2 separate regions of the Homo sapiens genome follow, and region 2 is linked to region 1. Evidence: fine-mapped expression QTL. A gene starts in region 1. The other region holds a variant in brackets. All regions are shown on one strand. Distances are between the middles of the regions.

Evidence for each region. PIP is the estimated chance that this variant, and not a neighbour inherited with it, causes the effect.
Region 2: its variant is fine-mapped to the expression of ARMCX4 in thyroid (GTEx, PIP above 0.99). The same link has a PIP of 0.9 or more in skeletal muscle, subcutaneous fat and whole blood.

The regions. Positions count from the first base shown.
Region 1 is chrX:101,477,536-101,493,146 of GRCh38, reverse strand. It overlaps ARMCX4 (armadillo repeat containing X-linked 4), which reads right to left and starts at 7,691. Exons shown (of 6, transcript NM_001256155.3): 1 at 7,617-7,691; 2 at 7,055-7,124; 3 at 5,875-5,954; 4 at 5,456-5,539; 5 at 5,048-5,103; 6 at 1-4,703. The coding sequence starts at 4,557.
Region 2 is chrX:101,409,597-101,425,207 of GRCh38, reverse strand. It overlaps RPL36A-HNRNPH2 (RPL36A-HNRNPH2 readthrough), which reads right to left. Exons shown (of 4, transcript NM_001199974.2): 4 at 11,075-13,272. The coding sequence ends at 13,216. It overlaps HNRNPH2 (heterogeneous nuclear ribonucleoprotein H2), which reads right to left. Exons shown (of 2, transcript NM_019597.5): 2 at 11,075-13,272. The coding sequence starts at 13,219. The coding sequence ends at 11,870. It also overlaps a transcript of ARMCX4 not described here. Among named protein-coding and RNA genes, the nearest start is that of HNRNPH2, 9.2 kb to the right of the region's middle. The variant G/C (reference allele first, on the strand shown) is at 7,144.

The DNA.
Region 1 (15,611 bases):
ATTCGTCTGACTCCCAGGGCAAACACAGAACCATCCACTGGCCTGGTCCCCAGTGCCAGCCCAGGAATCTCCACTAGACTGGTCCCTAAGCCCCAGCCTAGAATCTCCAACAACCTGCTCCCTGGCATCAGCCCAGGACCCTCTGCCACTGACCTGATCCTCAAATATAGGCTTTGGCCCAACACTAGCTGGATGCCCAGCCCCAGTCCAGGACCCTCCATTGGCCTGGTCCACAATCCCAACTAAGAATCCTCCACTGATTTGGTCCCCAGAGTTAGCCCATGACCTTCCACTGGACTGGTCTTCAGGCCCCACCTTGGACCCTCCACCAGCCTGGCCACCAGCCCCAGCCCAAGACCCTTCTTCTGTGGTCTGATTTTCAAATCTAGGCTTGGACCCACCACCAGACTGATCAAGTGTCCCAGCCCAGGCCCCACCACTGGACTGATCTACGTGGCCCAGCCTAGACCCTCCACTGGCTTGGTCTGCAGTGTCAGCCCAAGACCTTCCACTGGACTGGTCCTCAGGCCCCAACATTGACCCTCCACTAGCCTGGCCACCAGCCCCAGCCCAGGACCCTTCTCCACTGGCTTGATCCTCAAATCTAGGCTTGGACCCACCACCAGATTGATCACTAGTCCCAGCCCAGGACCCTCCACCGGCCTGATCCACAACCCCAGCCCAGTATGAAACACTACTCATATTCCCAGCCCCAGCTCCAGCCCAAGACCCTTCACTGGCTTGGTTCTCAGCCCCAGTCCAGGACCCTCCAATGGCCTCTTCCCCAACCCAGGACACCCCACTGGCCTGTCCCCCAGGCCAGGACCCATCACTGGCCTGACCCGCAGCCCAAAGCTCTCCAATGGCCTGATTCCCAGCGAGAGCCCAAGACCCCCCACTGGCCTGGTTCTCAGCCCCAGTCCAGGCTCCTCCACTGGCCTTGTCCCCAGCCCAGGTCCCCTCACTAGTCTGACCCCCAGCCCAGAGCCCTCCACTGGCCTGCTCCCCAGCTCTAGCCCAAGTCCCAATACCAACCACATTCTCAGCCCTGGCCCCAGCCCAGGACTTAACACTGGTCTCATCACAAGCCACAGCCCAAGACCGAATAATCCCAGCCTTATCACTAGCCCCACTCCAGGACCCAATACTGGCTTCATTCTCATCATCAGCCCAGGACACGCTATTTTCCCAGTCTCCATCCATGGTCTGAAACCTAAATTTGATCCACCGCTCAGCAGCAATCCAGTCTTCAACACCAATCCCATTCCAGTAGTAGTCATGGATGTTAGGCTGAGTCTTTCTGCAGGCTTGAGTGCCTGACCCACCCTCACTCTCAGAAGTGGGCATGGCCTCAGCCTCAGGCTTTGCATAGGCCTCATCTTCTGCTGTGGCTTCTGCCTCAGAAGTGGACATAGACTTGTCCCTTGCCCCAGGCAAGGTCTCACCCTGGGAACCGGCCACAATCTGAGGCTGGGCAGAGTGCCTTGTGCCTGCCCCAGTCCCTGCTTTAGGCACAGCAATGGTATTGCCCTTGACCTTATTCCTGGCACCAAGCAAGGTCTCACTCTGGGAATTAGCGACAGCTTGGGGCTGGGCAGAGCCCACTGTATCTGCCCCAGCCTCTGCCTTAGGCACAGCATTGGAATTGCCCCTGACCTTATTTTTGGCCCCAGGCAAGACCTCACCCTGAAAACTGGCCACAACCTGGACCTGGACAGAGCCCATTATGCCTGCCCCAGCCTCTGCCTTAGAAATAGCATTGGAATTGCCCTTGACCTTATTCCTGGCACCAGGCAAGGTCTCACGCTGGGAGTTGGCCACAACCTGAGGCTGGGCAGAGCCCATTGTATCTTCTCTGGCCCCTGCCTTAGACACAACATTGGAATTGCCCTTGACCTTATTCCTGGCACCAGGCAAGGTCTCACGCTGGGAGCTGGCCAAAACCTGAGGCTGGGTAGAGCCCACTGTATCTTCTCTGGCCCCTGCCTTAGACACGACATTGGGATTGCCCTTGACCTTATTCTTGGCACCAGGCAAGACTTCACCCTGGGAATTGGCCACAGCCTGGGGCTGGGCAGAGCCCCTTGTATCCATCCCAGCCCCTGCCTTAGACACAGCATTCCAATTTCCCCTGACCTTATTCTTGGCACCAGGCAAGGTCTCACAATGGGAATTAGCCACAGCCTGGGGCTGGACAGAGCCTGTTGCACCCATCCCAGCTTCTGCCTTAGACACAGCATTAAGATTGGCCTTGACCTTATTTTTGGCACCAGGCAAGACCTCACCCTGAGAATTGGCCACAGCCTGGAGCCGGGCAGAGTCTGTTGTATATGGCCCAACCCCTGAATTAGGCACAGTAGTGGGATTGCCTCTGATCTTATTCTTGGCACCAGGCAAGACCTCACCCTGGGAATTGGCCACAATCTGGGGCTGGACAGAGCCTGTTGTATCTGTCCCAGCCCCTGCCTTAGACACAGCATTGGAATTACCCTTGACCTTATTCTTAGAATCAAGCAAGGCCTCACCCTTGGAACTGGCCATAATCTGAAGCTGGGCAGTGCCCATTGCACCTTCCCCAACTTCTGCCTTAAGCACAACATTGGGATTACCCTTAACTTTATTCTTGGTGCCAAGCAAGGCCTCACCCTGGAAACTGACCACTGCCTCAGGCTGGGCAGAGTCTGTTGTACCTTCTCCAGCCCCCACCTTAAGCACAGTATGGGGATTGCCCTTGACTTTATTCTTGGCACCAGGCAAGGCCTCACCCTGGGGATTGGCCACAACCAGGGGCTGACCACAGACCCTCTGGTCTGCCTTAGTCCCGGCTTTAGAAGTGGCATTAGGATTGCCCCTACCATCAACCCTGGAATCAAGCAAGGCCTCAGCTGGGGTCTTGACCCCAGCCTGAGGTTGTGTACAGGTTTTCATGTCCATCCCAGGCCCTGTCTTACACTTGGCTTTGGCTTTGCCCCTAGCCTTACCTCTAGTATTAGGTAAGGCTTCACCCTGGCTCTGGGCCATACCTTGAGCCTTCATATCCACCCCAGCTCCTTCCTTAGGCATGGTATTGACATTGCCCCTGACCTTAATTTTGCCATCAGACAAGGTATCAGCCTGAACACTGGCCACAAGCTGAGGCTGTGTACAGGACAACATGTCTGTCCCATCCCCCACCTTAGCCATAACATTGGGATTGCCTCTGCTCTTATCCCTGGCATCAGGCAAGGCCTCAACCTGGGAATTGGCCCTCAAGTTTGCCTTGGCCCCTGCTTTAGTCATGGCATTGGGATTGCCTCTGTTCTTAACCTTAGCATCAGACATGGCCTCAGCGTGAGTACTGGCAACAGCTTGAGGCTGAGCAGCAGCTCTCATGTCAGCTCCAGTTATTGCCTTAGATATGACATTGGTATTTCCCCTACCATCAACCCTGGCACCAGACGTCACCTCAGCCTGTTTCTTGGCCACAGTCTGAGGTTGTATACAAGCTCTCACATCTGCCCCTGCCCCCACCTTACACATGGCATTGGTGTTACCCCCGGCATCAATCTTTGCCCCAGGAATGGCCTCAGTCTGGGTTTTGGCAAAAATTTGAGGCTGAGCAGAAGCCCTCGTGTCTGCCCCAGACTCTGCCCTAGACATGGTTTTACAATTCCCCATGTCCTCAACCCCAGTACCAGGCATGTCATCACCCTGGATCTTGGTCACAGCCTGAGACTGTGCACAGGACTTCATGTCCACTCCAGCCACCTCCCTGGACATGCCATTGGGATTTCCCCTAGCATCAACTGTGGCACCAGGCCTGGCCTCAGACTGAGTCTTAGCCACACTCACAGTCTCTTCCAGAGCTCTTGTCTTGGTTTCATCCACAATTCCAGTCTTGTTCGTGGCCCCCATCTTGGCCACTTCCCTGGGTACTGCCAAGGTCTCACTCTGTGTAACCATTACTCTGTTAATCTCTGTCTCTTTTTCAGCCAATATATGAGTTTCAGCTTTGGTCTGGGTCATTGCTTCTCTCTTGGCCTCTGTCTTGGCAACCAGCGCCCAAGCTTTAGCCTTGGTCTGTGTCACTGCTTCTTTCTTAACTATTTTGCCAGCCTCAGCATCAGTTTGGGTCACTGCTTCTTTCATGGCCACTTCCCTGGCTTTGGCCTTGACCTCAGTCAGAGTCACTGCCTCTGTCATGACCAGTGTTCCAGCCACCACTTTGGACTCAGATTGAGTCTCTGGCTCTGCCCCAACCATTGCCTTGGCCTGAGAGTTGGCTCTGTGTATGGCTATAGCAGTGGCCTTGGTCTCTACTTCAGCCCTAGGCCCACTTCTTGCTCCAGTTTCTGCTCCAATCTCGACTTGGGGTTTAGTCTTAATCTCTGCTTCATTTATGGCCAAGGTCTGGCTCTGTACCCCAACCACAGTCTCCATCTTAACTGTGGATCCATTTCTGGCAAGAGTCCTCACACTCTGGGCTCTTCCCTTGGTAAATTTGTAAATGTAGTAGCAGGTGCCAGCCCAGATCACCAGTCCTGCAGTCACCCAGCCCACTTCCTGAATGCGGCCCATGTAATCACCCCTGCTAAAAGCACGAACAAGGTATGGTAGAGCGCACTCGGGCTGGGGTAAAGAGAGTGGTAGTTGTGGGTGTAGGCCTGTGAGGGTGCTGGTCTTCAGCCACTCAAAGGCCACTACAGCTGCCTCTGGAGGTGGACCTAGAAGTGGAGGAAGGAAATGGACTAAAATTTCTCTTCTGATTTTGTTGCATCATACAGATAGATACACAGAGGAACAGAAAATGGTAGAACCATGTGCTTGGTGGAAGAGAGGATGATTAGCAGCCTCTCCATTCCTCTTATTTCATCTTCTCTCCACCTTCCCCAATGCCCAATAATTTTCTTCCAAGATACTTCTATACACATTTCTATACACCAAATGAACAGTGGAAAGGATGGTAGGAGGTCTGACGATAAATGGGAGCAACCAAGAAGTCCCAGACTTTGATTTCTACTGGACCTACTCTGGTCACCTGTCTACAGGGCCCCACCCTCATACCAACCTGTAATGATCCGAGGCAGTTCCCTCCTCTCCTCTTGCTTCTCTTGGCAGTACACCCTAAAGTAGATACATAAATTCATGAGATCTCTGGACCTAGAGACAGACAGACAGATGGAGGGACAGATGGGAGTAGAGAGTTTGTTCTTGATGGGACAGACATATTATTAGCAAACTACCTTTCTACGTTTCTCAGTCCACCCCACTCCCTAAGACACTGTCACACTCTTTTCCCTGTACCAGAATTAAGGTGAGGGTATGGAGTAAATGACAGGGATGGTGGGAAAGGTGGCTGGAAAAGGAGAGACTGAGGATCCTCATCCTCCAGACTGGTCACTGGTCCTTACTGGATGCACACTGGTCTCCACCAACCCACTCTAGAGGTCTACCCAGGCAGTCCCCACACTCTTACCAGTCTATACTGATCAGGAGCAATCTCCTCTTTGTTTCTTTGCTTCCAGTGATCTTAAGCCCTGCAGCAGACATGCAGGCAGATCTATGGACAAGTAAACAAACAGTAGGTAATGGAAACCGAGTCCCTGGTAGAACAGACAAGCAACCTGATCCCTGACCCCAATGTCTGCCTCGCCAGAGCCCAGGTTCTATATACTAATGTGTACCATCTCATGGTCCCCCCATCAAGTCTTCCCCCAGTCATACTCCAGCCCACCCTTACCCCCATATTCCTATCATTTCCTGCACTGAAATCCACAGGAGGCATGGCAGCACTGTGGCAATCCAGCACTCCACTGAGACCCTCTTAAATCTCACCCACCTCCTATGCCCACCCTCTCTTGTCATCCCCAGAGACTACCCCCACTTCACACCAACCTCCATGCTTCTAGATTGATCTCCTCCTCTTTCCCTTGCTTCCAATGGTAAACAGCCCTACTGCAGGCCTATGGGAAGACCTTGGAACAGATGGAGAAAAAGAAGAGAGTGGATGTTAAGTACTTGTGACACTTACCATCTAAGACATAGGTCCCTGTACCTGCCTGCCTGGATTTAGAGACCCATTTGCTGGCAGAAAAAAAAAAAAAAAAAAGCCTGGGGCTTCCCCAGCACTGAAATGGGAAGGATGGAAAAGGGAGGCAGGAAAAGTAAAAGGCAACAGACAGAGGCACGTTATTTTATTTTATTTTATTTTATTTTATTTATTTTATTTTTTATTTATTTTGAGACAGAGCCCCACTCTGTCACCCAGGCTGGATTGCAGTGGCAAGATCATGGCTCACCACAGTCTCGACCTCCCAGGCTCAAAAGATCCTCCCACCTCAGCCTCCCAAGTAGCAGGAACTACAGACTGTGCCACCATACCCAGCTAATTTTTAAATTATATGTAGAGATGAAGTCTCGCTATGTTGCCCAGGCTGGTCTTGAACACCTGAGCTCAAGCAATCCTCTTGCTTGGGTCTCTCAAAGTGCTGGGATTACAGGCAAGAGCTACTAGGCCCAACAAGGCAAATTATTTTAAAACCACCTGTAGGGTTCTAGGGATTTCCCCAAAAGCCCACCATTTCCTTCACCAAGATGGTCAGGTAGGTAGAGGGATCTGGAAAACTGAAGGATGGCAGGAGAGATGGGAGACCCCAGATCCCATACTCTAGAACCACAACCTACTGCTGTCCACGTCCCTTTCAACCTATCTCTAGGAGTCTCCAGCAGAAGAGAAAAGCTATAGGGGAAGCCTTTTGCTTCTACAAAATCACTATCCTTCCCCACCAAAGGCTATCTAAAAAATAATAATAATAATAATATTCTTTAATATAATTTATCTTTTTCTCAATATTATCTGAAATGCAAATAAAAGCATCTGTAGAAAAGTTTGCTGTCTTCATTGGTCTTCAACATACAATTTAAAAGTCCTAAGCTTGGTAAGTAAAATGCAGTTTAGGGAAAGTCCCCAAGCTAGCCCCACCCCACATCCCATTCAGACAGCCGCACCTAAGTTCCTGTCATAGAATTCATATGGAACTCCAATGGTTTAGATAGTGTCTGTACTCACACTAACCTCCTTGATCCAGTGCAGTTTTCTCCTCTCCTTCCTTTCTCCTCGCCGCAAACAGTGCTACACCGAACTACTGTCCGACAGACAGGAGAGAGTAAAACCACTTAGTGTTGGTCTAGAGCCCAGGACATAGATCCCAATACTCGCCTTTCCGGGTTCAGGAACCTGGTTATCAAACGTCCCTCCCCACAGTCTGAGACACCACCCTTACCAACCCCACCGTCCAGTCTCTAAGGCCCACCATTTTCTCTGCAAACGCCACCGTGGCGCATCCCTTCCACTAAATTGAGCAGGAAGCGAGCGGACATGTGTGGCCAGTGATTAGAGCGATGGGCATCTCAATCTCTGTATTTCCCTCTGGCAGAGACAATCTCCCCACAAATCAAAGCCCACGGTTCGCCTGCACAGATGTAGGCGGGGGCAAGGGGGCTAGGGAGAATCAGAGGCAAAGGCTCCTCGAACTTGAGGCAGCATAGACCACCGCCCCCTCAAGCCCCGTAACCGCTGCCGGGGTCAGTGAGCTTCTGCCGGCCTGGCCAGGGCGCGCGGGCCCCAGGGCCCTTACCTGCTCCGCTTTCCCCGGGCCCGATGCCAGCCCGCCGAGCGCAGGGCAGCGGGGAGCTGGTAGCCAGATGCGAGTGACGACTGCAACGAAGGCTGCGTAGCTCTGCAGCTCCGGGTCACGTGAGGACCGCGCGTCACCGCCGAGCTCGCCCTCCTCCCCAGCACCCCCTACCACCCACCAAGGGCCGGCGGCCAGTCACCAGGAACTCCCCCCTCCTCCACTCCGCACGCACAGACATCCCCGTTCTCTGGTCTGTGCTCGGTGCCCCAGTGCGCACGCGTTGTCACTCATCTCCGTCCTCTCCAATCTGAGGGCCCACAAGTGGCATCATCGCCTTGTGGTTGGAGTTTACCCATCTTCAGTTACAGGGGAGGGTCTGCATCCCCCTACCCACTCCCGGCCCTTGGCTGTGGCCTTTTATGTTTCTTCTTTGAGTAATCACTTATTTCTCTCTTAGACTATAAGACCAGCACTCCCCACCCGCCCCCTACACGACCTGCCCTCTCTAAGTACAATGCCTGCACCAAATGGGCTGTGGAAGGGGGTATCAGGAAGGAAAGCAGAAGGTGCAAGTAGAGCTTTAATTTTCTTTTTCGTGTTCCTTTTTTTTCTTTTAATATGACATTCTTTTCTAATATTGTAATCAGAAAATACAGTATAGCCATTTTCATTTGACACAAAAAATATTCAGGGTGTAAAAATAACAAAAGACTCATTCTTTTGTTTACATTATTTTGTGCCACATTTTAAAATGTCTTCTGTTACTGCAAACTATTTTACAGCTTTCAAAATTGACTAGTAATTCTTGACATTTTAAATACAAAATTGTCCTAAACAAAACCAGCACGTATTCAATATGATCTATAAGTTAATCTTTGGAAAGACATTTCGTTTTCTAATATTGACAATTTTACACAGGTGATTTGTAACTTTTGAAGTTCTGGCTGAACTCAGCATCTTTTTTCAGGTGTCTAAGACCTTCTTCAGAGAAGACTTCTAGAGGATATATTTAAGACCCAACTCCTGATGAGCCTAGTGCTTTACTAGTGACTTACCAAATTAACCTGCTTTACTAGTGACTTCCCAAATTAACCTGTTTTCCATTCAAGGGGCTTTATTTGGATTTTACATAAGCATGTAATCAGATCAGCCTCACCACACCCATGGAACAACCAACTGCTAGAGCTTGGATGGAAAGGAGACTTAACAGGTGGAATTTTCATCCGTCGTAACACTTGAGATCTCGCCGGTGTCTGCCATTCATGTACTACATACTACCCTAGCAGTGGCGAGTGTTCAATATTTTCCAGTGGAGATGGTGGTGAGGGTCTGTGGATGACTGTGAATCACTGCAACACACCTGATGTCCGTGTCATTATTTTTTTCCCTCACAAGTGGAAGGGCAATGTACAGGATCCCAAGCAATTGCCAAGAAAAAGAAGTTTTTTCATGTCCTGCCTTGTGTTACAACTTCACTGCACCTCCCATACAAGCCCCTCAGAATAATCCCAAAACTCAGGGACCAAATATGCAGAAGTTAGTCCCCACGCATCCACCTGTCCCCGCTGAGGAGTCATACTCCAAATATAGACCCTCCAGGCAGCCTCTTTCTTAGAACATTGAAATAGGACACCCCAGAGGGAGGGGCTCCACTGTGAGGGGCCCCTGTGTGGAGGAGGCCCTTTCAGGAGCCAAGAAAGGAAGTCCTAGTGCCTTACAATCTTACTAATGGCTTTTCAGAACTCAATTGAAAGTGACGAACTTACTTTCTCCACCAAAGGAAAATATTGATAAATTAATTGCATACAAATTTTAAACTTTGGTAAAGTAAAAAAAAAAAACCATAAACATTGACTGTCAAAAGGCTAACTTGTAATAATCTAAAAGCTCTTACAGATCATTAGTAAAATGATAAACAACCCAATAGAAAAATGTGCCAAAAGACATGAACAGATTTGTTCACAGAAAAGAAATAGATTACTAATAAACATATGAAAAGATGCTCAAACAAAGAAATGCAAATCAAAGCAACTATGCCTTACCATGTTTCAAGTATGATTTTCTCAAAGTTTAGAAACTTGATAATATTGTTGACTGGTTTGTCAAGAAATGGGCACTCCTCTACTCTGTTGGAGGCAGATATTGATGCAAGCTTTTTATATAGGGCAATTTGGCAAACTCTATTAAATGATAACTATAATATTTCACAAATTCTTTGACCCAATAATTCTATTCCTTGGAATTTAGCCAACCTATATGCCTACACAGTTTCACAAAGATATATTTACTAGAATTTTTTTTTTTCGCAATGCTTGTAAGGTTTGAAAAAACTGACGCAGCCGGGCACGGTGGCTCACACCTGTAATCCCAGCACTTTGGGAGGCCGAAGCAGGTGGATCACGAGGTCAGGAGTTCAAGACCAGCCTGGCCAACGTGGTGAAACCCCGTTTCTATTAAAAATACAAAAATTAGCCGGGCGCAGTGGCAGGCGCTTATAACCCCAGCTACTTGCAAGGCTGAGTCAGGAGAATGGCTTGAACCCAAGGGATGGAGGTTGCAGTGAGCCTAGATCACGCCACTGCACTCCAGTCTGGCTGACAGAGTGAGACTCTGTCAAAAAAAAAAAAAAAAAAAAAAAAAGCCTGACGCAACATAAAATGGCTATTGATAGGGGAGAGATTAAATAACTCATGTTATATTTATACAATGTGGCTGATGGAGTTAGCTCTGTGTATCCCAGTGGAAAGATAATTGGGGTGTTTTAATATTTGCTGTTTACTTTACATACAAATCCCACAAGAGTACAATTCTAGTATAAAATTCAAACCCAAGGCCAAGTGTGATGGCTCACGCCTATAATCCCAATACTTTGGGAGTCTGAGGCAAGAGCATTACTTGAGGCCAAGAGTTTGAGACCACCCTACATAGGTTTCCCGACATAGGGAAACCTGTCTATTAAAAAAAAAAAATAGCTGGGCTTAGTGGTGCATGCCTGTGGTCCTAGCTACTTGGGAGGCTACTTGGCAAGAAGATTGTTTGAGCTTAGGAATTCAAGGTTACAGTGAACTATGATTGCACCACTGCTCTCCAGACCGGCAATGGCGTGAAACCCTGTCTCTGAAAAGAAAAGAAAAGAAAAGAATAGTCAAACCCAGAAAAAGCACTAGTACCACTTTCACTCCCCTATCCTCACCCAAATCACAGTTACCTCTCCATTTTAAGTTTGGTGTATTAACCTTTTGTATACATGATATACACATACATGTCTTATTAAAATATATAAATGAGATTTTTTTTTATATGGAGTCTTGCTCTTTCACTCAGGCTGGAGTGCAGTGGTGCGATCTTGGCTCACCGCAACCTCCACCTCTCGGGTTCAAGCGATTCTCATGCCTCAGCCTCCCTAGTAGCTGGGATTACAGGTGCGCACCACCATGCCCAGCTAATGTTTGTATTTTTAGTAGAGACTGGGTTTCACCATGTTGGCTAGGCTGGTCTCAAACTCCTGGCCTCAAGTGATCCAACCACCTGGGCCTCTCAAAGTGCTGGGATTACAGGTGTGAGCCACCACGCCTGGCCAGGATCATAATTAACATACTGTTTTGCAACTTGCTTTTTTTTCATTTAAAATTATGTCTCAAAGAGCTCTACATACCAGTACATTTAAAGCTGCTTCATTCTTTTTAACTGCTGCATATTATGAGTTCTGGATCCGGAGCTAATAAAGCAAGGTTACAATGAACAGTCTGGCACATAAAGCTTTGCCAACAGGTAGAAGAATTTCTTTAGGATATTCTACTATAAATATAATTATTTGCTTAAATGTATGAGATTTTATACATTTGATATTGCCAAAAGAAGGATGTGAGATTTTATATAGTTAATGGATATACCACCAAACTGTCCTCCAAAAAGGCTTGGCCAATTTATACCCCCATCAAACATAAGACAGGATCTATTTCCCCACACTCTCATGCACACTGTGTACAAATGTTTCTCAACTTATAATGGGGTCATGTTCAAATAAACTTATAGGTTGAAAATACCATAAATCTAAAATGCATTTAATACATCCAACCTACCAAACATCATAGCCTAGCCTACCTTAAAAATGCTCGGAACACTCACATTAGCTGACAGTTCGGCAAAATCATCTAATGCAAAGCCTATTTTATAATAAAGTGTTGAATATCTCACATAATTTATTGAATACTACATTGAAAGAAAAACAGGATGGTTGTATGAGTACTTGAAGTACAGATTTTACTGAATGTGTATTGCTTTTGCACCACCAATTAAAGTAAAAAAATCATAGGTTGAATTGTCATAAATTGGGGACCGTCTGTATTAGTAATTATTGCCAATATAAGAGTCAACAAAAGATTGTCCTTTTTTTTGTTTTGTTTTGAGATAGGTTCTCACTCTGTTGCCCAGGCTGGAGTGCAGTGATGTAATCACAGCTCACTGCAGCCTCGACCTTCCTGAGCTCAGGTGATCCTCCCATCTCAGCTTCCCCAGTAGCTGGGACTACAGGCGCATGCCACCACGCCCAGCTAATTTTTGTACTTTTGGTATAGACGGGTTTTTGCCATGTTGCCCAGGTTGGTTTCGAACTCCTGAGCTCAAGCAATCCACCCACCTCGGCCTCCCAAAATGCTGGGATCACACAGGTGTGAGCTACTGCACCTGGCAAGATTGTCCTTTTAATTCACATTTTCCTAAATATCTATTATCTTGAGCATAATTTCACATGCTTAACATCCATTTGCATTTCTTCTCTGAGTATTAGTTAATATCCTTTGAGTATTTTCCTATTCAGCTGTATTTTTTAAATGGTTTGTAGTTCTTTACACATTTCTGTATATTAGTTATTTTTCTGTTATATAGGTTGTACATATATTTTCTCAATCTATCACTAACATCTTAATTTTATGGTATTTTTGATATTCAGAATTTTTACTTTTTTAGACAGGGTTTCGCTGTGTCGCCCAGGCTGGACTGCAGTGGCGTGATCATAGCTCACTGCTGCCTTGAACCCCTGGGCTTAAGCGATCTTCCTGCCTCAGTCTCCTGAGTAGCTAGGACTACAAATGCATGGCACCACGCCCAGCTAATTTTTATGTTTTGTAGAGACAGGGTCTCACTATATTCCCCAGGCTGGTCTCAAACTCCTGGTCTCAAAAGATCCTCCCACCCAGACCTCCCAAAGTGCTGGGATTACAGGCATGAGCCAGGGCTATAATCCCAGCACTTTGGATTCTGGAGCCATGGCACCTAACTCCAGAATTTTTACATTATGATGTGGTCAAAACATTAACCTTTTCTTGTATGGCTTCTGGGTCATTGCATATATATGTGTGTGTGTGTGTGTGTGTGTGTGTGTGTGTGTGTGTGTGTGTGTGTGTGTCTCCAAATCCTAGCACCATTCATATAATAGTCCATTATTCCCCAATAAATTTAAAGAGCTAACTTAACCATATGTTAAATTCTCATTTATACTCAGATCTGTTTCATCGATTGACTTTTCTGTTTCACTGATAATATATATAGTTATAAACTGCCTCAATATCACACTTTTACATGGTGTCGTTTTGTAGCAAGTTTTGGTGTCGGGGAAGACAAATCCTTCATTGCCCTGCTTTTTCCAACTATTTTTGGATATCCTTGGGCATTTCAAGTGAAGTTCCAAGTTTCATTTTTAAAAAATCTTGTTGGACTTTTCATTAGGATTGCATCCAATTTATAGATTAAGCTGGGTGTGGTGGGTCATGCCTGTAATCCCAGCACTTTAGGAGGTCACGGCAGGTGGATCACTTGAGGTCAGGAGTTCAAGACCAGCCTGACCAACATCGTGAAACCTCGTCTTTACTAAAAATACAAAAATTAGCCAGGGGTGGTGGCGCACACCTGTAGTCCAAGCTACTCGGGAGGCTGAGGCATGAAAATCGCTTGAACCCTGGAGGTGGAAGTTGCAGTGAGCCCAGACTGTGCCACTGCACTCCAGCCTGGGCAACAGAGTAAGACTCTGTCTCAAAAAAAAAAAAAAGGAATTTATAGATCAACTTAAGGAATAATTAAAATCTTAGTAATAAAGTATTTTCACCCAGGGTCATGTAGTATTTTTAAAATTTATTCACATCCTCTTTTGTGCTCTTCAGGAAAATTGTCATTTTTCGTGTGTGTGTGTGTGTGTGTGTGTGTGTGTGTGTGTGTGTGTGTGTGTGTGGTTTTCTTTATAGATTTTATACATTTCTTATTAGCTGTATTCCCCAATATTTCATAGTTTTTGTTAATATTGTGAATGTGGCTTTTTGTACATTATATTCTCTCTACATTTTTTAGAAAAATGATTTCACTATTTTTATAAAAATGATGCATGCTCATTATAAAGAAGCAATGCAATGCAATAAAGTACACAGAATAAGATAAAATATCATCTCAGATTCTAGCACTGTGAAATAACGAACTTTCAAATGACAATCAAACTTCCCAGGACATGTTATGCTATTTAGATCTAAACATTTTATTCTTTCTTAAGAATATATATATGTGTGTGTGTATGTATATACATATATATGTACATATAGTTATTTCATTTAATTTCTTCTTTTTCATTTCCCGTCAATGTAATTATCTGAAGCCCTTCCTCTGTCCATAATTCAATTTTTAGCCACATGTTTCTATTTCACTCTATTTATAATTTATTCTATAATGTTGTTTTGTCCTAATGGGTTCTTTAGTTTGCAATCTTCCTTTTTACCTAATTCTGCTGTTTTCACATCTCATCTTTGCATTCTTGTTTTATTAAGTTCATATTCTTATTAAGTTGTTCTATAGCTTAAAGTACTTGGAAATTTCCTTCTGTTCTTTGTGGTACGCTTTTTTCTTGTTTAGATTCTTTGTCTTGTGCTTCCTGTATCTTATATGGCTTCTGAGGAATGGAAGAGCCTGGTTACCCTGCACCACAATGCCCAGTTCTGGAATCTCCTGTTTCTTTACTTGGCTGAGATATTTTGAAGTTTACGTCATTGGAATGTGCCCCTTTCTTTGGTTGCTGATGATCATCTCCATTCTTCTGCTGTTTTGTTTTTTCTGCATTTTGTTGAATATTAGGAGAGATCTGGTGAAATGGTATCTTCCCTCTATTCTAACATAGAAGCTTCTTATCCATTTTCCATTTGTGTATTGCTGGTGCAAAGCAAAGCTACAATTTCTGAATGTTGACCTTGTATCAGGCCACCCTAATGAATTTGTATTATTAGTTATAAAAGTTTGTCAGTTGATTTTCTCTGATTTTCTCAAAAGACATTTATATTGTCTGTAAATGACAGTTTAATATTTTTCCTTTCTGATACTTTATACTATTCATGTTATCTTTTCATCTTATTATATGTAACAAGAAGTCCAGAGTAATGTTGAATAGTAAAGGTGATAACAGACATCCTTATAGTCAGAGTCTAGCTCCTGAATATAACAGGAATGCTTTTCACGTTTCATCATTAAGTACAATATTTCTATGCATCTCCTACACAAATCCTTTGCCAAGTTAAGGAAACTTCTATTCCTAGAATGCCAGGAGTTGTTATCAGGAATGGATGTTTAATTTGAACAAAAAATTTTATGGTTCCTATTGAGATTATCATATTTTAATGATTTTAATATAGTAGATTACAATAAAAATGTTTAAATATTGGACCACCTTTGAATTCTTGCAATAAACCTCACACGGTAGTGACAATTTTTTTTAATAAACTGCTGGATTTCAATTTGCTAATATCTGGTTTTACATTTTTGTAGATGAGATCCGTTTATAGTTTTCTTTTTCTGTGTACCATCCTTTTTCAGTTTTTGGTATTATAATTATACTAGCCTTATGAAATGCATAATATAATTATACTAGCCTTATGAAATGCGTTAGGAAGTTTTCTGTGTTCTGGAATTAGTTTATATAACAAGAGAATTTTTCCATTCCTTAAAGGCTTGGGGAAGAACTTT
Region 2 (15,611 bases), 68 kb after region 1:
TACATCTTGAAACAGTTTCTTTCTTTGGCTTCAATGACACAAGTCCCTCCTAACTTTCTTTTAAACCTCCCTGGCTGCTGTTTCCCAGTCTCCTTTGCAGGCTGACTCTCCTGTACTCCACATGAAATACTGGAGTTTCTCAAGCCTCCTTCTTTGATCTCCTGCATTCTCACTCTGATACTCTTTGGCCTAGACAACCTTATCCCCACACATGGCTTGAATTATCAACTATATCCATATAGCACACAATTTATATATCCAATATATAGGCCCCTTCTGAGCTCTAGATCCATCCATCCAACTACCTATATTCTCTTGGGTGTTCTCAAAGGCACGTCAAACACAGTATGTCTAAGACTAAACTCACAGTCCTCATACCTGAACTTAGTATTCAATGTGATCTTAAAGGTCCTGCTTCTTAATGCTGTTACTCCAAACATCCAGTTGTACAAGCCAGAAACTGAGAAGTCACCCTTGACCGCTCACTCTCACTGTAAGATACAGGGGGGAGTAAACAAAATGTGGATTTTCCTATACTCTCTATTTAATATAGAATGCTTCTGTAGCCCCAGATGTATGGGAGAATTTTCCCATACATCAAGCAATCAGTTTTGCAGTGGACACCAGCTGGATGTCCTCTAATTGAATTCAGTTCTGTTACTACCTACCTGGAGATAGTGTCAGATCCCACAGTTTGAGAGCTCAGGCTCACAAGACTGCTCTCCACTTCAGATGCCAGGTTGTAAGCTATGCTTCTGACTGACCCACTGTAAATCAGGGTTCCCATGACCCTCCCCTTGGGTTTGATTAATTTGCTAGAGAGGGTCACAGAACTCTGAAAAACATGTTTACAGGTTTATTATAAAGGATATTACAAAGCATATAGATGGACAGCCAGATGGAACAATCACATAGGACAAGGTACAGGATAAGGGGCACCAAGCTTCCATGCCCCCTACAAGCACAGCACCCTCTAGGTACCTCCATGTGTTCGCTATCCAGAAGCTCTCCAAACCCAATTCTTTCGGGTTTTTATAGACTTTACAGCCAGGCACGGTGGCTCACGCCTGTAATCCCAGCACTTTGGGAGGCCGAGGTGGGTGGATCACATAAGGTCAGGAGTTCGAGACCAGCCCCACCAACATGGCAAAACCCTGTCTCTACTAAAAATACAAAATTTGCCAGGCGTGGTGGTGCATGCCTGTAATCCCAGCTACTTGGGAGGCTGAGGCAGGAGAATCGCTTGAACCCGTGAGATGGAGGTTGCAGTGAGGCAAGATCACGCCATTATACTCCAGCCTGGGCAACAAGAGTGAGACTCCATCTCAAAATATAAAAATAAAAAATAAATAAAATAGAGGCTTTACTATGTAGGCATGATTGATTACATCATTGGCCACTGCTAGTCAATTTAACCTTCAGCTCCTCTCCCTTCCCCAGAGGCTGGGGGTGTGGTGAAAAAGTCTCAACTCTCTAATCCTGCCTTGACCAGCGCCCCCGTCCTAAATCTACCTAGGAGCCTCAGCCACCAGTTATCTCATTAGCATGCAAAAGATACTTTTTTATTTTTATTTTTATTTTTATTTTTTTGAGACGGAGTTTCACTCTTGTTGCCCAGGCTAGAGTGCAATGGCGTGATCTCAGCTCACTGCAACCTCCGCCTCCCAGGTTCAAGCGATTCTCCTGCCTCAGCGTCCCAAGTAGCTGGGATTACAGGCATGTGTCACCATGCCCGGCTAATTGTGTATTCTTAGTAGAGATGGGGTTTCACGATGTTGGTCAGGCTGGTCTCAAACTCCTGACCCCTGGTGATCCGCCCACCTCGGCCTCCCAAAGTGCTGGGATTACAAGCGTGAGCCACCACCCAGGGCAAAAGATACTCTCATCACCTCAGAGATTCTAAGGGTTTTAAAAGCTGTAATTCGCGAAAATGAGGATGAAGACTACCATGGTTTGAATGTTTGTCTTCTCCAAAACTCATGTTAAAATTTAATTGCCCCATGGGCATGGTGGCTCACGCCTGTAATCCCAGCACTTTGGGGGGCCGAGGCCAGTGGATCGCCTGAGGTCAGGAGTTCAAGACCAGCCTGGCCAACATGGTGAAACATTGTCTCTAGTAAAAATACAAAGATTAGCTGGGCATGGTGGTGGGCGCCTGTAATCCCAGCTACTCGGGAGGCTGAGGCAGGAGAATCGCTTGAGCCCAGGAGGTAGAGGTTGCACTGAGCCAAGATTGCGCCACTGCACTCCAATCTGGGCAACATAGTGAGACTCCGTCTCAAAAATATATATATATAAATAAAATAAAAATGAAAAATTTAATTGCCATTGTAATGAAATCACCTTTGCAAAATTATAACTGAGGAAATTATGACAGTGAAAGAAATCAGACCTAACCGACTCCACCTTGCTTCTAACCTTTAAGCTGTCCTTGTTCATTCCTGGGCATAGGTCAAACTAACTTTGGGAAGGAATTCAGTTTGTGGTTTGATTCTGAAACAAAATTGATCATAGGCGTTTCTTTCCTGGGGACTAGTCTGCCTGTGCAGGACTAACAAATTAGCTACAAGATTAGAAATTACAGTTTAGGGGTCATGCAGCCTCTGGCTCCAAGAGTCTGAACCTCCCCAAATTGCTCCTGGGGATAACATCACTATTGTGAAACCTAAGATCAGTGCCTGAGATACTTTTCAGACCCTGAACTCGATGGAGCAGCTGACACCACCCAGACCTGTAATCTGGCTCAACCAGTTCTGCCATCCCACCCAGAACACAAAACTGCAAGAAAGACTCACTTCGACCCCCTATGATTCCATCTCCAACCTGACTGATCAGCACTCCGTACTTCCCAAGCCCCTACCCACCAAGTTATCTTTAAAAACTCTGATCCCAGCCAGGCACGGTGGCTCACGCCTGTAATCCCAGCACTTTGGGAGGCTGAGGCGGGTGGATCACCTGAAGTCAGGAGTTCGAGACCAGCCTGGCCAACATGGTGAAACCCCATCTCTACTAAAAAATACAAAAATTGGCCTGGCATAGTGGCGGGCACCTGTAATCCCAGCTACTCGGGAGGCTGAGGCAGGAGAATCGCTTGAACCCGGGAGGCAGAGGTTGCAGTGAGCCGAAATCACATCATTGCACTCCAGCCTGGGCAACAGAGCAAGACTCTGTCTCAAATAATAATAATAATAATAATAATAATAATAATAATAATAACTGATCCCCCAAATGCTCTGGGAGACTGATTTAAGTAATAACAAAACTCTGGTCTCCTGCACAGCCGGCTGTGTGTGAATTACTCTTTCTTCATTTCAACTCTCCTGTCTTGATAAATCTCTGTCTAGGCAGCAGGCAAGGTGAACCCACTGGGCGGTTGCAGTAATAGTATTAAGAGGTGAGACTTTTAAGAGGTGATTAAGCCATGAGGGCTCTACCCTCACAGGTGGGATTAATGCCATTATAAAAGGGCAAGATCGGTCTCCTCTTGCTCTATCTCTTGGCCCTTCTTTCTGTCTTCTGCCATGTCATGATCTAGCCTTCCTCCCCTCTGGAGGACACAGTGTGTGCAGGGACCATCTTGGAAAAAGAGAATGGCCTCACCAGACACCAAACCTGCCCACACCTTAACCTTAGACTTCCTATCTTCCAGAACTGTAAGGCAATAAATTTCTGTTTATAAATTACCCACTATCGGGTATTGTTATAGCAGCACAAAACAAACTAAAGACTAAATGTGTACTTCACAATATCACACTCCCTCCCTCCCAATTCCAATCCATTGCCAAGTCCTGCAGATTTTACCTCCTAAGAAACCCTAAAATATACCAATCCCCTCCATGTAAACCATGGCTATTGTAGTACAAGCTACTATTACCTCTACTCTAGATTGTTGAAATGGCTTCTAATAAAACTCTCCATACATTCTGACTCCTTCCCAATCCTTTATCCACACTGTAGCCAGGGCAATATTTTCTTTTCCTTTCTTTTTTTTTTTTTTTTTTTTTGAGACAGAGTTTTGCTCTTGTTGCCCAGGCTGGTGTGCAATGGCGCGATCTCAGCTCACCACAACCTCTGCCTCCCGGGTTCAAGCGATTCTCCTGCCTCACCCTCCCGAGTAGCTGGGATTACAAGCATGCACCACCATGCCCGGCTAACTTTTTGTATTTTTAGTAGAGACGGGGTTTCACCATGTTGGTTGGCCAGGCTGGTCTCGAATGCCCGACCTCAGGTGATCCACCTGCCTCAGCCTCCCAAAGTGCTGGGATTACAGGCATGAGCCACTGTGCCTGGCCCCCAGGGCAATATTTTCAAAGACAAATCTGATTCGTTCTCCCCATCCCACAGGGCTTCCAATGGCTCTTAGGATATAGACTGAATGGCTTAAGATGGCTTGTAAGGCCCTGCATGCCCTGACCCAACACACTGCTGTCCCAACTGCCTGTTGAACTCCAGCCACTTTCATTCAGTCTCTTTTACTCACCATGCCATCTCTGAACACATAGCCTCAAACCAGCTCCTCCAACTCTCACCTCCAATCTAATTAGCCACTATTCTTCCTTTAACTCTCAGCTCAATAACTGCTTCTTTGAAGCAATTCCTGACCACCTTGACTAGTCGAATACCCCTATTTTATAGGCTCTCATTGCACCATGTACCCTCCTTTTCATGATACTTGTCCTCATTGCAATTATACACTTGCATGGCTATTTGCTTGCTACTTGGCTCCCCACTGTACTATGAGCTCCTTGAGGACAGGAACTTAATAGGTGTTTTTCCTCAAATTTCCTCAGCACCCAGTACAATGCCTGGCAATAAATTGGTGGTCTTTTTTTTGTTTTTGTTTTTTTTTGAGACGGAGGCCCACTCTGTCACCCAAGCTGGAGTGCAGTGGCACAATCTTGGCTCATTGCAACCTCCGCCTCCTGCATTCAAGTGATTCTCCTGCCTCAGCCTCCCAAGTAGCTGGGATTACAGGCGCACACCACCATGCCCAGCTAATTTTTGTATTTCTAGTAGAGATGGGGGTTTCACCATGTTGGCCAGGCTCGTCTCGAACTCCTGACCTGATCCACCCGCCTCGGCCTCCCAGAGTGCTGGGATTACAGGCGTGAGCCACTGCATCCAGCCAATTGGTGGTCTTTTTAAAAAGAATTGTACCCTGGCAGGTCATGCTAATATATACTACTAGAAGCACTGTCTGAGAGTGCCTTCCGCCAATGGGAAACAGAGCCAGATACTAGTCAAAAGCAGTAAAGCCATATTTTGAGTACTATTATAATAGAGGAAAAGAGACTTCAGTATAGAACTAAGCTCAATCCAAAGACAACTAGGACAAGTGTGGATTTACAGTCAAGCAGCAGAGTGAGGGAGTCAGTAGAAAGAAAATTCCTAAGGGGAGAGAGATATCAAGGGTAGGGGGATTCTTGCTCAACTGACTAAACAGGATTCTCGCTCAAGGCAGGACAAGGTGATCAGGTATCAAGGGTGAGGGAGTTACTCAGCAGGACTCTTGCTAAAACTGGGCTAGGCAGGCCGAGGACAGGGCCCAAGGACAAGGTGTAGTTGAAAAGAAAGCTGAGAGGAGCCTGTCCAAAGTTTGCTCAAAGAGACTTTGTTACTTCCTCAGGCCAGTGTATGTTTCTTTATCTTTATGTCTTACTTTGCTGCTAGTCTCCCCACAAAATAGATCATATCCCCACTACTCTTTACTTATTATTCCATAGGCATTTTAAGAGCTTCTTTGAGTTATAATTTATATTTCATAAAGTTCTCCCCCTTTTCAAGTGCAAATTCAATAGTTTTTAGTAATTTATAGAGTTGTGCGAACTATCACCACAATCTAAGTTGGGACATTTTCGTTATCTCTAAAAGACGCTCCATGCCCATTTGCAGCCACTCCCAGTTCCCACCCCATAGCTGCTTTTGAAAGCCATCATATTTGCCTAAGGATGAAAGGTACAGCCTCACTGGAAAAGCAAAAATCAAAACTACCACGCGTGAAATAATTTGAGAACCACCAAGCACTAATTGTGCATTTCTGATTATTTTCTCAAAAACATTTAAAGACAAGTCAATGTGAACTAAGGAGTGGGAGGAGGTTTCAAGGAAAAGGTAGAACATTTTAAGGTTTTTCTGCAGAGGAAAAAGTGAGCAAAAAAAAAAAAAAGGAAAAGGAATTTAAGTTGAAAAATACTCCAACAAACGAACCAACATGTTTTCAGAACTTTTTGAAGTTCCAGTATGGTGCTGTCACGGTTGGTGAGCTGTCTGTCCTTGATCCAGTAGACAATGCGAGTTTCTAGAACAGAAGGATAAGGATTTATCACAAGCCATAAAAGCTGAAGCAACACTCAACTGAAAATAAACATGTATTGAGCGCCTACTGTGTGTCACGCAAGGGGCTCTGCGCAGGAAAAAAAAAAAAAAAAAAGGCTCCTCGCAGCTCCCCCTGCCCCGGCCAGGTGGCTGCGTGCCCCCTTCCGCCTAATCCCTGGACTGCCCTGGGGCTGAGAACTCCCCTGGCGCGAGAAGCTGGACTCCCCCGGGGACCGGCCCGAGATCACTCGGAGTCGGGGGCGTCCGGCACAGGCCAGACGCAAGGAGGACCCAGCTGGGGCCGGCCCTTCCTTCCCTTCTCCTGTCGCACGACTAGGCCTGTGCCCGGTCCCACCTGCCGCCCTCCCCCTCCTCCTAATGGGACCGAAAAGAGCCCGAAGGGCCTGGGAGGGCGGGTGAGGTTCCCAGGCCTTTCCAGATGCCCTGCCGTGTTTGGCAAAGCGATTGTCTTCCCTCTTGGAGCTCCGCGGACACCCGACCCCTCTTCCTCTCCCTCGCCACCTTCCGTCATTCGCCACGCTGACCACTTCCCCTCTGCTGCCTCCCGCTGAAGCCCCAGCCCGGCCGCGGCCGCCATTTCCCGACAGCCTCTTCCCTGTCCCTTTCCCTGAAAGGAAATGTACTGGGGCGGGGCGGGGCGCTGTGTGAGGGTCTCGAGAAAGCCGCCGGGGAGAAGGAGGGATGGATTCTTTCCAAACTCTCTCCGCTCTCCCGGAGCCCCCTACCTCACCCTTTCTCCCCGAATTCTTGTGGGCTTGGGAGCGAGAGAGAAGGAGCTGGTCCCAGCGCTAGTCACCGCCACCCTCA[G/C]CCCACAGATCGGGGGGGGCACGGGTACTCGTACACCACCCCATAAGGATCCCAGCCATGTCCTCTTTCCTTCGCCAGAGCTCATTTCCTCCTCCCTTCCAGCTTCCTGCCCTTTCCCCAAGACAAAGTTGATGTTTGCCTTCCCTGAGACTCAATTTCCTCATCTCTAAAGTGGGATGACACGTAAGAACATCTTGTATATGTGAAACATGCCCTGTGCAAAAGAAGGGGAGCAGGAAGAGGGATACAGGGAGAAAAAGGGCCGTGGAAAAAGGGTCCTTGGAATGTACGGGTAGATGTTCTAAAGAATGTATCGGTCAGAGCATTAGGATAGGTTCAGAAAATAATTACTGAATATATTATTTTGATTCTTAGATGTTATCTCTCACTATTTATCTCTTCTTTCAGAAGCCTAACATTCTCTTCTCAGAGGGCCAGATCGATGTGTGTTGTGTGCATTTATCTGTGCTGACCACTGCTGTGACGGAGGTGGTGGGGCGTCCATTCACAGGCTGCAGGCACAGGGACAACATAACTGTGGAATCCTAATTAGAAAAAAGGAGTTAGGCTGGCTGGAGCAGGGGAAGGCAAAGGGAGAAAGCAAATAAGCTATAAGTTTGTCTTTCTTCATGGTCCAGAACATATAAACAAAAAGAGGAATCAGATAAGCTATAGGTCTGCTTTTCTTTATGGCCCAGGACATGTGGCTTCTTGCGCAGATAACATACATAACTCACAAACTTCCTGCTCACTATCAAACGCCTCAATTTATCAAACACCCCAGCTAACAGAAGAATGCAAGCTAGCTCCCTACTGCCTTGGTTTTCTCAATCAGCCCAAAAACCATCCTATAAAATCTCCAGCAAGCCTTTGTTTCTTTTCAGTCGGCTCCTCTCTTGCAGGCTGCCCGTTGCCTTCTCGAAACGTATTTTCCTACTTTCTCTAATAAATCTGCCTTTACCTCCAACTGTCTTGGTAAATTATTTTACCCCTGCACCACCAGCCCAGTTAGTCGACACTCCCCCGCGACGATAACCCCTCACCTTCCCAGCGGAGTCCTGCACCATGCTAACCTGGGCCCCTTGGGCATGCCTGCTTTGCACTCATGAGAAGACAGTTTTGGTCATTGTGGGAGCAGCTTGTAAAGGGTTCTTGTGACACTCCCAGCCTGGTATAAGGCACAGCAAGTGGAATTTCCTTCCATCAGCAGCTGTTTTGCAATAGCCCTGGAGGCCCATCTTGGAGAAATCTTCATTTTAGCTGACAGCACTAGGAATTCTACCTGATGGAAAAGGAGCTTGATTTATAAACATATTCGCAATGCATTTTCGTATCATTTTGCTGGGTAGAGAAGGCAGAGAAGATATGTCATGCTTACACATGGGATTGTCTCTGTTTTGGTTACCTCCTTTAGGGTTGGATGAGTGAATGCAGGAATCAATGAATGGGTGGATAATGGAATCCATGTATCCATCAGCCAGTAGTTTCCTGCAGCAGAACCACCCTGAGCACTTGTTAAAACACAGCTTATTGGCTGGACAGAGGTTCACACCTGTAATCCCAGCACTTTGAGAGGCCAAGGCAGGAGGATCTCTTGAGCCTAGGAGTTCGAGACCAGCCTAGGCAACATAGTGAGATCCCGTCTCTATAAAAATCATTTTAAAAAATAACTGGGCTTGGTGGCACTCGCCTGTAGTCCCAGCTACTCGAGAGGCTGAGGTGGGAGTATCACTTGAGCCTGGAATTCAAGGCTGCAGTGAGCTGAGATCGCACCACCGCACTCCAGCCTGGGCAAGAGCGAGACCCTGTCTCAGAAAAACACAAAAAACAAAACACAACTTGTTGGGCTCCACACCCAGTTTCTGATTCAGTCCTTGGGGGAAAGGGACGAGGCGGGGGGCGGGGGGGCAAAAAGAATCTGCATATCTCACAAGGTGGAGGTTCATGCTGTTACTGATCAGGTACCACACCCAGAGAACCACTGGCACAAGCCATCGGATACTTAGACCACGATAACTGTGGCTGCAAATTTTCTGCCTGATCCTGCCAAATAGCTCACACACGCAGTTGAAAATAAATCCTCTGACTCAGTGTTTGGGGGGTGTTGTGGGTGGACTGCCCACTCGACCTCCCATCACTTTCCTGGGTAGTAGTGTTAGATGTGAGTGTTGGAGCACGAATGGTGGTGGGTGTGCACGCGTGTGCACACCAGCTGTACTGCTGTCCCTTTGCACACCTCTAGTGCTGACCGCTGACCTTCTCCAGGTTCTCTCTCCTTTGCTCCCCAGAGCCCTTCTGAGTCTTCTTAGCCAGCGAAGAAGAGTAAGTGAACATCTAAGATCACAAAGAACCCTCTATTGTCTCCTGGGATTTGGTGCCATCTAGTGGCTAACTTGAGAATCTTTGCTCAGACTTAGAGAAACTTCTGGAAAATTAACTAAGTAGCCTGGGAAGGCAAAAACACCTACTTGTTTACCCTCTGAGAAAGGCTTCCTGAAGGGCAAGGACTGGCTCAACATGATAGGAGTCAAAATGGATTTCTTGCTCTCCTGAAAGCTGTGATAAAAATTAGAAGTCATCAAAGAATCTCAATCACGTCTCACTGCATCTTCAGCTTGAATGATTTTCTAGAATTGATTTTCATTTCCTGAATGAAACGGAGTCAGGTAATACCAACTTGGTATTTGCCTCCCATCTCATTTCTCTGGGCCCCAAGCCCTGAACAGCCCAAGTATAGCAATCCAGTCCCCAAGGGGTCAGTGAAACTACAGAGATCTGTAGTTCACGGTACAGTTGGTACTGATAAGAGGGACATCAGGGCCTTAAAGTTATTGAGGGGTGGAATTGTTAATGACCACTGTGATCCAGACAGAAATCTAAGATATCAGCACACAATGCCACAGCAGCTCAAAATCCTCATTAAGAGGTGCGAGGTATTGTAAATATGTGGTTTGGACTTTAACAGAAAATTTAAACTACTTGTTATGGGAACAAAGGGGAGGCAATCAGGGATCATAAAGGAAGCTGCTCCTTAAAGTTGCTGTTTGGGGAACTGTGATGGGTCTCAAAACGTGGTCTTGAGACCAGCAGCATCAGCACATTCTCAAGCAACATCCCAAAACTACTGAATTGGAAACTCTAGGGATGGGGCCTAGAAATGAATGTTTAAACAACCCCTGCAGATGATTCTGATGCACATGAATGTTTGAGAACCGCTGGTTTAAGATAAGCTTTAGATGCCCTAAAATACACCTGAGAGTGTTTATAGAGAATCTACTAATGAATTCATGGAGGAGACAATTTATTTCCATAACATAAACCTGCTTCTTTTTTATGTTTTGTTTTTAACACATAATTGTAAGCCTACTTCTTTTTAAACATACAAACGTGCCTTCTAGTTTGTGGTGAAATAAAAAGGATTATTTATTTGCTTTCACTTCTTTGGATTTTAGAGAATACTATCTTGGTAAGTACAGTCTCCAAAAGTAGCTCAATAGTCCTGTAGACATGGTAAGTTTTTTTTAAAAAAGAATGTACAACTTTAATATTAATCAAAAAAATACAAATTAAAATAGCAATGAGATATCATTTCTCAACTAAAAAACTGGCAAAGTTCAAAAAGAATAATGTGCATCAATAAGGAGGGTATAAGGGGGAAAATAAAACACACACTCCAAGTAGAAAGATAAAGTACCAGAATCTTTCTGGTAACACAAATCAGAAGCCTTAAAAATGAGTATATCTTTGACTCAGCAATCCCATTTCTAGGGATATATCTTAGAAATAATTAATGATATATGCAACAATGAACATATAAAGATGCTAAATATCATTTATAATTTTAAAATTAAAAATCTTAACTTTGAGGGAATTGTAAAGTCAATCAGTGTGCCCATATGACAGAACATAATAAAAATCAATCAGTTCAAGATTTTTTCCAGTTTTTAAAAGGAAGATTTATTTAACAAGTTTCACTTAGTACAATACATCTAAATGGAAATCACAATACAAGGAAAGATTTAAACCAAAGCCTCAGATTTTCATACAAACGACACGACCAAACTTCTAAAGTATTGGTATTACATCTTAAAATTGTCCCGTATCCTTAAAAAAAAAAAAAGTGTACACTCACGTGCCTTACAGGATATTAAACCAAAAAGCTAGAATTAACAAACATGCCAAATGTTTTCACTTTGAATCGTAGACACAGCTCCTATATTTGAGTTTTACAGAAAGGCATGTTTCTCAACATGCATCCGAAGTTTTCAATGTATTTGTGGTATAAGAGCAACATTTAACATAAGTGAAACTGCATTAACCTAAATACGCTTACTGCTTAGGTACACTCCTACAACATAACTAACTTGAGGAAAGCTAAAAATTGTTTTAACAGTTATGGTCAATACTGAACTTTGTTATTATGTCCTAGATGAATGTTTCAGTGTTCAAAATTACTGAGCTTGAAGTTTTAAAATAATCTCAACTTCCACTTTACAGTAAGCATGAATCACAAGCCTGTAATGCAAAACTGTTAAACTTAACTCGTTTTCTTAAAAAAGGAGAAAGAAAGATAAAGAAAGAGAAGCTGACCAAGAGTGATCAGAATCAATTATATTTCCCATTTACCAATCATACTGGATATACTAAACATCCCTCCCATTCTATTCAACTCCCACAAATGTACAGCTTTTATATCTGGAGTAGCTATTTAGTGCTCCTTCTCTACCTAAGCAAGGTTTGACTGATAGTCACTGGAGTTTTCCTGCAGAACTTGGTCATATCCACTCATACTGCTCTGACCACCATAACCACCTCCATAACCACCACTCAGCTGCTGGCTAGCAGGACCTCCATAACTAGACTGGTTGGATAAGCCCATCCCTCCCATCATTTGGCTACCATAAGCGCCACCACTTGCCCCTGCTGTAGAATTCAAAAAAAGTTCTACATAGCTGTGATCGTAAGCACCCCCACTTGTTCCTGCAGTAGAATTTAAGAAGAGCTCCACATATCTGTGTTGCATATTAGCTTTGTCTTTTGCCATAGCTGCCACAGCATCTTCATGAGTAGCAAATTCAACATCTGCCTCACCGGTAACTCTGCCATCGGGTCCAATTTCAATATGTACTCTCATGGGATTAAGAGGTGAGAAGAAATTATAAATATCATTCTCAGTGGCTCTGTAAGGTAACCCCCTCATGTGTACACAGTGCCCTGTGGTGCTCTGGAAACTGGACCCACCATCTCCGTATCTATGATCAGACATTCCTGAAAAACAGTAATTGAGGTCTCTTCCAAATCTATCAGACCCAAAGCCATATCCATCATTATAGCCACCATAGTCATCATAGCCTCCATACCCTCCACCATAGGCACCACGCCTCATCCTTTCAAACCCAGCTCCTCTGCCAATGCTATTATACCCTCTGCCAGCCCCCGGCCTATCATAGGGACCTGGCCGCTGCATAGCCATGAGCTTTCGAGGGGGATCATAGTGGGTTCGAACTTCAGCTCGGCTACTCTTGAAGATCTCAATGTACCTGTGCCCTATTCTTTCCTTGTGTTTCTTTAAGGCCTTCTCAGCTATCTCCTGTGAAGCAAACTGCACAAAGGCTTCCCCTGTGCTTCGCCCCTGAAAGTCCACTGGCAGTGTCATCCCATTTGGCACAATTTCCAACCCTGAAAAGAACTGAACAATCTCTTCCTTGCTACAGCCAAATGGGAGTCCTCTAAGCCGGACGAAGCCATCGTTGGCAGTATCAGGGCTATTCGGACCTGTATGCTTCAACACCCAATCCATTTCAACACTGTTAGACTTGAATACTTCAACGTATCTGTGTCCCATGGTTTCTCTGTCCTTCTTCAAAGCCAATTTCACTTCCTCTTCAGATTCAAGTTCAACAAATGCTTCACCACTTGGTCTGCCTTCTCTGGTGTAGATGAAACGAATACCTGATGTGCCATTTTGGATCTTGCAATCAGAGAAGAAGCGCATCACTTCATCGGCTGAGCAGGACCAGGGTAGGCCCCTGACCTTCACCACGAACCCCTCCCTGCCTTCCGTGCTCAGCATCATGGTGATTGTTGGGCTCTTGGTGGCAAGTTTGGCTCAATGCAATTTTGGTGTAGCTGAAAAAAAAAAAAAGAAGACTACTGTCATGGAAAAATGCTCGTGATATAGTAAGAGAAAAAAGCAAACTATTAATAGAAAATTCAATTATGCTGACAGCTTTTCTGTAAGACGTCTGTATAAACAGAGAGTTCACCAAATTTTTAACTCATTCATTTTTTAGCAGTTATTTATTCAATGCCTATTACGTGTTAGATACCATTAAAAATTAACAGCAATCGGCCGGGTGCGGTGGCTCACGCCTGTAATCCCAGCACTTTGGGAGGCTGAGGTGGGTGTATCACCTGAGGTCAGCAGTTCGAGACCAGCCTGGTCAACATGGTGAAACCCCGTCTCTACTAAAAATACAAAAAATTGGCTGGGCGTGGTGGCAGGTGCCTGTAATCCCAGCTACTCGGGAGGCTGAGGCAGGAAAATCGCTTTTATGTACCCAGGAGGTGGAGGTGAGCCAAGATCACGCCACTGCACTCCAGCCTCAGCGACCAGAGCAAAACTCCGTCTCAAAAAAAAAAAAAAAAAAAAAAAAAAAATTAACAGCAACAAATCAGTGGGAGATGTCAACAAATAAAAGATGGCTATATCTGAATATATAAACATAAAAAACTTCACTAGATCAAAAGATTAAACAACAATTAAAACACAAACAAAACACAGGTTATGTAAGTTCTTTATATAATATCTTCATTATATAAAAATGTATGCAAATCAATAAAATCAGGGAAATATTTGGGCTCCAGAGATAAATGAAAAAAAGACATTATTGGGAATTCACACATTCATTTTAGAAACATTTTTTAGTTGCCATGTCCAATATTCGGCTCTGGCATACAAGAATCAATAAGCCCAGAATGGGCTTATGGTCCTACAGGAGCACCGAATGTCATTATTAAAGATGTAAATGCAAATATACATTATACTTGCCATGACCCTCTGAGTGGAGTGTAAGCATAGTATCAAAGAGGGACTAGTTGATCAGTTCTATTGGTTGGAGGCCAAATGGTTAAATGAAACAGACTAATCTGCCCAGGGATCCATAAACATTTTTTTTTCTTAATTATGATGAAGCACAAATAGGAGAGGGAAAAGCAAGTGAAAAGACTGGCAAGGCATAGATCAGATCCCAAAGACTTTGATATACAAACACTAAGCGCCTTTTAAGACTTTTAAACCGGGGAGTATGTAGGGTGACTTCACCAAAACTCTTTCAGACAGATCACCCTGGCAACAGCGTGGCACTCAAACAGAAGGGGGTCGACGTGGAACTAGGGAGATTAGTTAGAACTTGTCTCATAAATATATGTTAAAGGAATCGCCTAAGGCAACAGGAGTAAAATGGAGAAAAGATGTATCTACACATACCAAAAAAAGTGGAATCTGCGGGACTTGATAACAGATTAAGTATGAGAGAATACAGGTATAGGAGGATACAGGAGAGGAATCTGGGAAATGTTCAAATTTAATCAATCTTCCAGCAAGTTAAAATCAGAACTAATCGTTATTTTTCACCCATCAAGATAATGGAAATTAAACAGCAACAGTAAATCAGTGCTATGCAGTTCACAAACTAATACACTACCAGAAGAGTGATAATTGATATAAACTATTTCCTTTTTGATAAACCCCACTATATCCTGAAAGCAATTTGATAATATGTATCACGCCTTTTGACAGCAAATACATTTCAGTTATGTGCCCTAAGGAGATGATCTGAAATTCAGACAGATTTATGGAGCTATATATTCTTTGAAAAGTACTTTATTAAGAAAACGAATATTATGCATTTAATTTTAAAAGTTACAAAAATATTTAATAACATGAGAAATTACTTATGCTATAATTGTAAGTGACCCAAGAGCACAACTGCTTTACAATATCAACTGTGTACAAAATACATGTTCCCATACCCTTTGACACTGCTAGAATCCTTCCAGGAATCTAGTCAACAGAAATACTTACAAATGTTCCTTGCAGCACTGTTAGTAATGGCAGAAAATTGGAAACCTAAATAGCCATCATTAGAGGAATGGCTGAATGAATTATACTTTATCCTTAAACTGGAATGCAATGCAGCCATTTAAAAAAAATCTATCTGCCTTGACCCAGAAAGATCTCCAAAATACATTAAATAAAAGAATATACATAGTATGATCCTACTTATAGTAAAAGATTGGCATGCATGTATATACGTATGTAAATAAATAAAAGATCTGGAAGCAAACTTGTTTTTGAGAGAACTGAAGGGTGGGGGGGTGAAGTGGGCTTTTCGCTTTTTACCCTATATACTTCTATACAGTTTTAATTCTTTACATTTGCTGTACTGGGATTTTTTCTTTTTAAG